2 separate regions of the Homo sapiens genome follow, and region 1 is linked to region 2. The links come from fine-mapping of genetic effects on gene expression. A gene starts in region 2. The other region holds a variant in brackets. All regions are shown on one strand. Distances are from middle to middle.

Region 1 (5,378 bases), 270 kb after region 2:
CGCTGCCGCGTTGTAGTTCGATCTCAGACTGCTGTGCTAGCAATGAGTGAGGCTCCATGGGTGTAGGATCCTCTGAGCCAGGCACGGAATATAATCTCCTGGTGTGCCGTTTGCTAAGACCGTCAGAAAAGCACAGTATTAGGGTGGGAGTGACCCGATTTTCCAGGTGCCATTTGTCCCTTCTTCCCTTGGCTAGGAAGGGGAATTCCCTGACCCCTTGTGCTTCCCAGGTCAGGCGATGCCTCACCCTGCTTCGGCTCATGCTTGGTGCACTGCACCCACTGTCCTGCACCCACTGTCTGACAATCCCCAGTGAGATGAACCCGGTACCTCAGTTGGAAATGCAGAAATCACCTGTCTTCTGCGTCGCTCACGCTGGGAGCTGTAGACTGGAGCTGTTCCTATTCGGCCATCTTGGAACCACCCCTGCAGATCATATTTCAACCTGAAATGTGGAGGGGACAAGCATCCAAAACAGATCACTGTGCAGGTGTAATCAAGCCTCATGTTTTGACATAGGGCCCATCTGTAGAAAGTGGTGATGTTGGCCCGGCACAGTGACTCACACCTGTAATCCCAGCACTTTGGGAGGCCAAGATGGGAGGATCACCTGAGGTCAGGAGTTGGAGACCAGCCTGACCAACATGGTGAAACCCTGTCTCTACTAAAAATACAAAAATTAGCCAGGCATGGTGATGCATGCCTGTAATCCTAGCTCCTCAGGAGGCTGAAGCAGGAGAATCGCTTGAACCCAGGAGACGGAGGTTGCAGTGATCTGAGATCACACCATTGCATTCCTACCTGATTGACAAGATGGAAACTCCGTCTTGAAAAAAAAAATGGTGATGTTAGCATCATCTGAGGGTGGAGTTTTGAGCCCTCGGACACAAAAGGTTGTTTTGGGACACGTGCATAGGCCTAGCCGAAGGGTCGGTGGTCTCAAAGTGCCATCACACCCAGGTAATTTTTGTATTTTTAGTACAGACTGGGTTTCACCATGTTGCCAGGGCTGGTCTCGAACTCTTGACCTCAGGTGATCCACTTGCTTCAGCCTCCCAAAGTGCTAGGATTGCAGGTGTGAGCCACTGCACCTGGCCTTTTTTTCTTTTTCTTTTCTTTTTTTAAGACAGGATCATGCCCTGTCACTTAGGCTGGAGTACAGTGGTGCAATCATGGCTCACTGCAACCTCCTGGGCTCAAGTGATGCTCCCACCTCAGCCTCCCAAATTTCTGGAATTACAGGTATGAGCTACCGCATCCAGTGAGATTAATTTTTCTATTGGATAATTGTTGCTACTTTTCTCAGGACGCAGAGAGGCTGGAGCCAGTGACCTTGGCCTTGGGTTGAGGGACAGCACAGCACCAGTTCATGCTTAGCCCATGGAGTTGCTATAGCTTGAGTCTGCCATGGTCCACACTAGGAGGCTAGTATCTTCTACCTTTTGTTTTAGAGACATTCACAATGGGGCTGTCTTCCTCCTCCCAGGTGGGGAACCAGCTGCCACAGGACTGCAGAGCAAGGCCCCAGCGCCCTGGGCTGGACAGGCAGGCAGCCCTGATGTACTTGCCAGCTTTCCCCCAGGACTGTGCATGAGAGAGGCAGTGACACATTCTCTCCTGTCCTGGAAGTTGATGAGCTCCGATAGGAGGTTGTCTTGAACACTCATTTGGTTCCAGGGCCCTGCCAAGGCCACCCCAGTATCTGGGTACAGGACCAGCTCACACCACTCAAGAGCCAACCAGGGTTGCCTCTGTTCATTCATTTATCCTACCATTCAACAGACATAGGCCACATAGGCCCAGACTGGCCACACCCTGCCTGCCAAGGTTGGGGTGTAATCCCTGAGGGGGCTTCTGCCCTTGTCTTCCTTTGATAGGAGGGAGAGGGAAATACTTTCAGCAAGATTTCCTCTGAGTGGGTCTCACTGTAGAGCTGCGTGTGCTAAAATTGTCTGGGCAGGTCCACAGGAGCAGCAGAAGGAGGTGGGACTCTGGTTCTGGCTGCTTGCTTCCTTCATTCGCTTCTTCCATCCTCCCTCCCTCCCTCCCTCCCTCCCTCCCTCCCTCCCTCCCTTCCTTCCTTCTCCCTTTCTCTGTTCCTCTCTTTCTTCTCTCTCTCTCTCTCTCTCTCTCTCTCTTATTTTGAGACAAGGTCTCACTCTGTCACCCAGGCTGGAGTGAAGTTGTGCAATCATGACTCACTGCAGCCTTGAACTCCTGGGCTCAAGTGATCCTC[T/C]TGCCTCAGTCTCCCTAGTAGCTGGGACTGTAAGTGTTCAGCACCACTCCCAGCTAATTTTTAAATTTATTGCAGAGACAGGGTGTTACTTTGTTGCCCAGGCTGGTTTCAAACTCCTGGCCTGAAGCAATCCTCCCACCTCAGTCTCCCGAATTGCTGAGATTACAGGACACTTCTGAGCATGCTTTCCTAACCTCCCCCAACAGTGGTGAAATATTCCAACGAGATTACAGAGGAGAGGGGCCTCTTCTCCCTCTTCCTAAAGAGGGCTTAGTAGGAGACCTGACTCAGTAAATCTGAAAGAATAAATAGGTGTTTGTCATTTGCAAAGAGAGATAAGGGAAGTAGCAACATAGTATATAGTCCTGAAAGTGAAGGCCTGCTCCAAATACAGCCATCAGCTCTGTAGGGTGGGTTAAGGAGGGGCAGAGCACTGAGGTTCCTAGAGGGTGGAGGTGACCGAGGAGCTTAGAAGAGGATGGACATGGCTGAGGAGCTTAGAAGAGGGTGGACATGGCCGAGGTGCTTAGAAGAAGGTGGGCATGGATGAGAGGCTTAGAAGAGGGTAGACTTGACTGAGGTGCTTAGAAAGGGGTGTGGCCGATGTGGGTAGAGGAGGGTGGGCATGGCTGAGGGGGTGGACATGGCCAAGGTGCTTAGAAGAGGGTGGGCATGGCTGAGGTGGGTAGAAGAGGGGTGGGTGTGGCTGAAGTTGGTAGAAGAGGGTGGGCGTGGCTGAGGTGGGTAGAAGAGGGTGGGCGTGGCTGAGGTGCTTAGAAGAGGGTGGGCGTGGCTGAGATGAGTAGAAGACCCAGGGTGGGCATGGTGGAGGTGGGCAGAAGAGGTTGGGCGTGGCTGAGGTGGGTAGAAGAGGGTGGGTGTGGCCGAGGTGCTTAGAAGATGGTAGGCATGGGGCTGAGGTGCTTAGAAGAAGGTGTACATGGCCCAGTTCTGGAAGCGCCTGGGACATCAAAGAGGGGATGGATGTGACCTTGCCGGATGCCCATGGGCTCTGGCCTGGTGTGGAATAGCAACCTGCTTGTTGAATATATGAGTGAATGGGAGCCAGTGAGAAATTTGAAGCTGAAGCAAAGCGTGATTAGACGTGATGTCTTTGACACACCACTCTGGATGCTGGAGGTACCATCAACAAGAAGGGAAGGAGTCAAGGATGAATTTTTGAGATTGAACGCTAGATGATGGCATTGCAAGCTTTCGAATGCGTTCGGGTAGAAGGAGCAGAATGACCAAATATTTTGTTTTTCATTGAATGTGTGGGCAGTCCTGGCCCATTACTCCAGAGGTAAAATGTGTTCCAGCATGTTTTTCCATTGAGATAACTTCCTTTTCCATTATGGTGACAGTTCTGAAAGAAAGGGTAAGGGCGGGGATTGTGGGGGGACCCAGGGGAGAGAGGCCGACCAATGGTTCTTTCATGTGCTGTTTTATCAGGCATATTGTCGTGAAACCAATTTTCATGTTGAAATGGCTTTTCTTCCCGTAAACAAATTGCTTTTTATGTTGTTGAATGGGATGGCAGGCAGCCTCTTTGAAGATTAGCTAACTCAGTTCTCAGCCGGTGCTAAAATACGCACCTTCAGAGCCCAGCTAAGGGCAGTCCCCGTCTCCTTTGCTCCTCACAGCTGAATTGGTTAATACAAGTAGGAGAAAAGAGTTTCCCGAGGAATCAGGTGTAAGAACAGAAGCTTTGAATTTTGTGAAACAAGATTTCTACTCTGAGGCTTCAGATGGCGTCGGGAAAATGCTCCCCAGCATGGAGAGAACACTTGTATTCGAGCCTCCAGTTTACTCATTGTTGGTTTCATTTTGTAGAATAACATTTTGTTCTTCTTAAAAGAGCCAGACACCTGGAGACGTTTAAAAAAAAAAATCCAAAATAAAAATACATGATCATCTAGAATTAGCATCATTTGATGATAATTCCATCTTTACATGTCATATATTTCCTTTATGTCTTTTTCCCTTAGGCACATGTTTTGACAGGTTAAGCCATATTACACATATAGTTTTATATACTGATTTCTTAAGAAAACATATTTGCTCATGTCATTTACTAAATGTGGTTTTTGAATGTGTGTAATATTTCACCACATGGATATAATTAAGTTGCCATCCCATAGTCTATTTTCATTTTACTATTTTACTTTAAATAATTTCAAAAATAGCAGAAAGTTGCATGAACAGTACAAAGAAATCCTATATGTCTTTCACCCAGATTTCCTGATTGTAGACATTGGAGCACATTTCCGTATCATTCTCTCTCTCTCTCAAATAGATATGCTATATTTATATCATTTATACTAAAATTTGTTCTTTTTCTAAACTTTTTTACAGTAAGCAGCAGGCGTGATGTCCTCCACTGTTGAATATGCTAGAGTATATTTTTCACAAAGACGCTACAGCATAAGCATACTATAACCATCAGAATAAGAAAACTTAACATCATATACCACCACCTAATCCACAGACTCTATTCAAATTTCCCCAGTTATCCAAATAATTTCTTTTACAGCTAAATCATTCAATCCAGGATCATACTGGCATACCACATTTTATACTTCACTTTATTGCACCTTGCAGATACTGTGTTTTTTTGTTTTGTTTTGTTTGTTTGTTTTTTACAAATTAAAGGTTTGTGGCAACCCTGTGGTTGGGCAAGTCTGTCAGTATCATTTTTCTAAGAGCATGTGCTCACTTCGTGCCTCTGGGTCACATTTTGGTGATTCCAACAAATATTTCAATCTTTTTCATTATTTGCTTTCATTATTATATCTGTTAGGATGATCTGTGTGACAGAGCAGGAGCATCGCCATCTTGAACAAAACACCACCGTTGTAAGTTCTCTTTAAAAACCACCTAAATCCAGCCCCAAAACATCAGCCTAATGGCTAATGTCAGCATAACTAGAAACATCCCAACCCTAAGATAAACCCCTCTCTGACCAGAAACATACCAACCCTGAGATAGGCTCCCCTCCGACCAGAGACACTCCAACCCTGCAATAAACTTTCCTTCACATAGAAACATTCCAAACCTATGACAAGCCCCCCTTTCCAAAACCCTTAAATATACTTAGTGTGTAAGAGAGAAGGGCTCTCTGACCTAACTTGGCCAGAAGCCC
Region 2 (5,378 bases):
TTTCTCACAGCTATGGAGGCTGGAAGTCCAAGGTCAAAGTGCCAGCATGGTCAGGTTCTAGGGAGGACTCCTTTCCTGGCTTGCAGACAGCTGCCTTCTTGCTGTGTCCTCACATGGCAGAGATAGAGATCCCTCTCTTCCTCTTATAAAGCCACAGTCCAATTGGATTAGGGTTTCACCCTTAAAACCTCATTTAAAATGACCTCCCCAAACCCCTATCTTCAGATATAGTCACATTGGGGTTGAGGGCTTCAACGTAAGGATTTGGAGGAGGGACACAATTCACTCCATAGCATATGTGGAATTCAGGATATATATTTGGGGGCTGGGAAGGGAAATTAAATGACCAGTGGAGTCTTGGGCCATCCAAGCATGTCACAAAAATGGAAGGAAACCATTGCCATGAAATGGATGAACTTGGCAACAGAGAGGGGTACAGAGCTCATGTTCCCCCATCTACAGATACTGCTTCTCAGTCGTCCTGGGAGAAATACAGCTTATGGCAAATTCAGGACATCCTCCCTTCAAACATTTGCTTGAATTATCCAGACTGGGGGCCAACACTGGACTTCCAATCTCTGCTGTTCTGTAACGTCTCTGGGAAGTTCTGTGCTGCCATGCTAGTGTTAGGGTGGAGTGGGGAGTGAGTTCAGGGAGGCTGGTGTGAGGGTCTTGCCACCACCCATCCCAGGACCCCTGGTCTGGCATCAAGAAGGCACTGGCCTGCAAGAGAAGCTGTGTGACCCTGGGAAGCCACTCAGCCTCTCTGTCTCGCTCTACCCAATTGTGAACTAGGGGTTGATCAGGTCAGTTTCTTTTGTAGGTCACTCTTCATGTTGGTAGATAATTTTAAGCCCTGGTTAAGGACACTGCTCTGTAGTAGGTGCACAGAACGAAGGATTCGGCCCCAGGACTCAAGGAGGCCCATGGGCCTCTGGCTCCAGCATGGGTCTCTTGAGCTTCCCGCCAAACTCTAGGATCCTGGATCTTCCCACGGTCTGCCTCCAATGAGTGAATCCGTCTCATACCTCACTGCTCCTGCTTGGCGAGGGTGATGGGAAGATACGGTATTAGTGGGTAATTAAGTTATTAGCTGCCAAAGCTTAATTGCTCTCAGGAGTATTTTAATTGTAGCAGGGGACTCAAAAACAGAAAGCCTTGGAGACAGCAGACATCATGGAAACAGAAGGAAGGGGGAGTATATGTGAGGGTGCATGTATGGGAGTGCGGTGTGTACGTGTGTATGTATGTAAGAGTGTGTGTGTGCATGTGTATACGAGTGTGTGTGATGTGTGTGCATGTTTGTGTATGTGCCATGCATGTGAATGCATAAGTGGGAATGTTTGCGAGTGGTGCGTGTCTGTGTAGTGTGTTTGTTATGTGTATGTGTGTGCATATGTGCTGTGCGTGTGTGTATAAGTGTAAGTGTATATGTGTATGTGTAGTGTGAGTGTGAATGTATATGTGTATGAGTGTGTGCATAACTGTGAGTTTATATGCGTATGTGTAGTGAGAGTGTATATATGTATGTGTGCATGTGTTAGTGTGTATATGTATGAGTGTGTGTGTGGTGTGCATGAGTGCATGCATGTATGAGCTTGTGAGTGTGCGTGTTTATGAGTGTATCTGATGTGTGAGTTTGTGTCCTTATGTGAGCATGTGTGGTATGAGTATGCACGTGTGTCCATGTGTGGTATGTGAGTCTATGTGAGTGTACGTGTGTGTAAGAATGTGCATGTGTGGTGTGCATGTATGAGTATGTTCGTGGGTGTGTGTGGATGAGTGTATGTAAATGTATGTGTGGATGTGAGTGTATGTTAGTGTGTGTATGTATACGTGTGTGTGTACATGTGGTGTGTGTGTGCATGTGTGTGTGAATGTATATGTGTGTATGTGTGGTGTGTGTGAGTGTATATGTGTGTATGAGTGTGTGTGTGTGAGTGGGTGGGCACAAGTGTCAGTGTGTACATATGAGTGTATGTGTAAGCATGTAAGTGAGCATACGTGTAAGAGTGTATGTGTGCATATGTGTCTAACAGAACCTGCCTCTGTGATCTCTGCCAGGGCGTCCATCAGTGCAAACCCCCCGGGTGAGCCCAGGTCTGAAGGTGGCCACCAGCCACTGGCCTACTCCAGGTGGGCTTAGCGTGAGCCAGCACAGCCATCAGAGAACCTTCTCGGAGCTAGACCAGCTGCCCCAGGAGAAAGAGGGTAACCCTAAATATTATCCTACCAGGAAAGCCAGGCCTGGGGCTGTGGCCTCCATGGTCTGGGTGCTTCCTTTTGGAGGTGGGAGATGGATTCTCCAGGGAGAGCTGGGCCACCAGATATTTCTCTGTCCTGTGGCTTGACTGCTTCTAGAAACTTCCTGGGCTGAAAGCAAGGGACTTTGACAAGGGCTTGATTTGGAATGTGGGGCATTTTTATTGTTCCAGTTTGTTTTTCCCAAAGCAGGTTCCATGGGGGAAGGGTGAGGGGACAAGGGCTGGGGCTGCTCCTCCAGCAGTGGCCCCTGGGTGTGAGAGGTGAAGCCAGCTGGGCTTCTGGGTCAGTGGGGACTTGGAGAACTTTTCTGTCTAGCTAGAGGATTGTAAATGCACCAATCGGTGCTCTGTGTCTAGCTAGAGGATTGTAAATGCACCAGTCAGCATTCTGTAAAAATGGACCAATCAGCACTCTGTAAAATGGACCAATCAGCACTCTGTAAAATGGACCAATCAGCACTCTGTAAAATGGACCAATCAGCAGGACATGGGCAGGGCTGAATAAGAGAATAAAAGCTGGCTCCCCGAGCCCGCTGGGGAAGCTCGCTGGGGTGCTATCCGCTTGAGTTTGTGTTTTTTTCTTTCCTGCTTCTTAATAAAGCTTACTGCTTACTCTGGGTCCGCGCCACCTTTAAAGCTCACGGCCGCGGTCTGCGTCTTCGTTCTTGAAGTCAGCAAGACCGCAAGCCCACCGGGAGGAGCAGACGACTCCGGACGCGCCATCTTTAAGAGCTGTAACACTCACCGCGAGGTCCGTGGTTTTATTCTTAAAGTCGGCGAGACCAACAACCCAGCAGAAGGAATAAATTCCGCACACAGGTGGGCACAGAAACTAAAGAGCATGGTGGGCTCAGCTGCATGCAGTTCCCAGCTGGGCCAGGTTTGGGAGCCATCTGGGTACTTTCATAGTCTGGAGACAAGTTCCGGATTATGGTGGTGTTTTAATCTATGATTTTTTCTTTATCGGTTTATGATACCTCTCTAAAAGAGAGTTGCTTCATCAACTATTTGGTTATCCTGGAATATAATCTGTATGGAAAAAGCAGGACAATTGTTTGGTTCTTTTCTTATTACTTTAAAAGAGTAATTACTTTATTCCTTAGCAATTACATTCATGTCAATTTTCAGGATAATGAGTTGTACCATATTTGGTGATTGGCTGTGTCTTCCAGTTAGTTTCTCTGTCATTTGGCATCATTGAGAACTTATCCACTTTTAGGCCTGACAAGACTTTTCGTATTTCCTCCCATGGAGCTGATTACTTAGCCGGAAGTGGTATTTTGAGACTACAATTTGAGTGCTCATTGCCTGAGTTTTATTACCTTGACGTCTTTTCAGTGACACAACTGATACGTCCATATTTTTTTAAAGACAAAAATAAATTGAGTTCACAGTGATATTTTTATTCAAACTAGATTTCAGAGTTTTTACTTAACCTTAAAATTGTTATATTTACAGCTCTTTTCTCTAACATAGAAAATCTTGATTCCTAATGATGTTACATGAATCTCTTTTGTATGATTTCTTTGTGGTTCTTTTTGTCCTGAGACTTAGGTCTCACGTGGAAAGCTCAGTCAAAATATTATGTTCTAAAGTAACTTGAAAAAAACGGTTTTCTCTGTAGTTAAGCCATTAACTTGAAATACAGTTGTGTTTGCATGTTTCAGTTCATTTTCTATTTTAAGGAATTGCTTTGCTTTTTCCTTTTGATAGTTTTTTTCAAATCTGTAAAACCTTTATGTTTGCTCTTATAAATAGGCTCTGCTCATACATTATCTTCTGTTTCTACACATGTCCTGTTAAATTCTGTATGTTGGTCTTATTCTAATGCTTTACTAAATTCACCTATTATTTGTAATCGTTTTTTCATGAATTCTTTGGGATTTTCCATACATATAATCATATCACCTTAAAATAACTTTATTTCTTTTCCCATCTTATGCCTCTAATTGTCTAATCATGTTGGTTAATGCCTACAATACAGTGTTAATAGTAGCAGAGATAGTAAACATCCTTGTATTTTTTCTGATTTTAGCAATAAAGTTTCTAGTGCTTCTTGGAAAGTAAGAAGGTAGGGTGCTGGCTCGTGAGCTGATACGGAGGTGTGTGTATTTATGTTCAGGAAATATATATAGTTCCCTATTTTACTCTGATTTTCAATGTTAATTTAATTGTGAGCCGTTCATAGGGTCTTGGTTTTCATTTTGAAGAACCAGGGTTTAGGGTGTTTTGCTTATGCGAATTTAAGCCAGGACATGAAGGGACATTAGGGCTCCTGAGAAGTCTCACTTGCAGAAGAATTGAGCTGATTTGAAAAGCTCATTTCAGTTTTCAGATGTGGACTTAAAATTTTGGCTTTGCTTGTGTATATATTTTATTTCCGTGATATCTAATTGGTTTTGGGCAGAGATAGGGAGAAAACAACTTTGATTTTACATCATGTAGAAGGATTTCGCTTTTGCATCTTTCAAGGAATTCCATGGACATTTTCTACGTCCTAGATTGGCAGTTTTAGATTTCTTTTTTGTGCTTTTGAATACATCTTAGTAGTAAGATATTCAAAATGATGGCCAACAATCACCTTTGCAGAGTCAGTAACACAAGTGCAGTGATGAGACTTCATTGCTCATAAGCAGTTAAGTAGATTTGACAACCTCTCTTACATATTTAAGAGCTCCAGGCTCTCATGTTCCAGCAAATGCAGGGCTTAGCTTTGGGGCAGGCTGGAGCTCACACTCTGCCCTGTCGTCTTTTTTGTCAGCAACTCGTACCCCATTACACACCATATGGCATGACCCGCACAATGGAACATTTTGTCCAAAAGATATCTTCAAGAAAGAATTATGTTCAGTTATAACAAAAATAAATTCTTTTTGTGGGTTAAATGTGGTGCATCTTTGCAGGGTTTTAGAGGAAAGGACCAAGGGGAAAACCATTATCAAGCATTACAGGGAAAAAACTGATTATAATGTGGCCCTCAACAATTGTAAAATCTAGCAGAGACCACAAGATGCAAAAGAAAAGACTGTAACTTGATGCCCAACGTGGTTAAAAGGGAGGGAACGTTCCTTGGTGATTCTTTGAATTGGGTCTTCGAGTAACAGCCTGGGAACC

Direction of the effects. Positions count from the first base shown, and alleles are read on the strand shown. Sizes are in standard deviations (SD) of each study's normalised expression.
For the expression in nucleus accumbens of the gene that starts at base 2,803 in region 2, C is the high allele of the variant in region 1 and T is the other (small effect, 0.17 SD a copy in GTEx).

Evidence for each region. PIP is the estimated chance that this variant, and not a neighbour inherited with it, causes the effect. A credible set is the group of variants that fine-mapping cannot tell apart.
Region 1: its variant is the best candidate, but not a certain one, in a credible set for the expression of CALN1 in nucleus accumbens (GTEx, PIP 0.66).

Annotation. Positions count from the first base shown.
Region 1 is chr7:72,137,037-72,142,414 of GRCh38, reverse strand. The region is part of intron 3 of CALN1 (calneuron 1); the gene reads left to right. Among named protein-coding and RNA genes, the nearest start is that of CALN1, 270 kb to the left of the region's middle. The variant T/C (reference allele first, on the strand shown) is at 2,237.
Region 2 is chr7:72,409,763-72,415,140 of GRCh38, reverse strand. It overlaps CALN1 (calneuron 1), which reads left to right and starts at 2,803. Exons shown (of 7, transcript NM_031468.4): 1 at 2,803-3,083.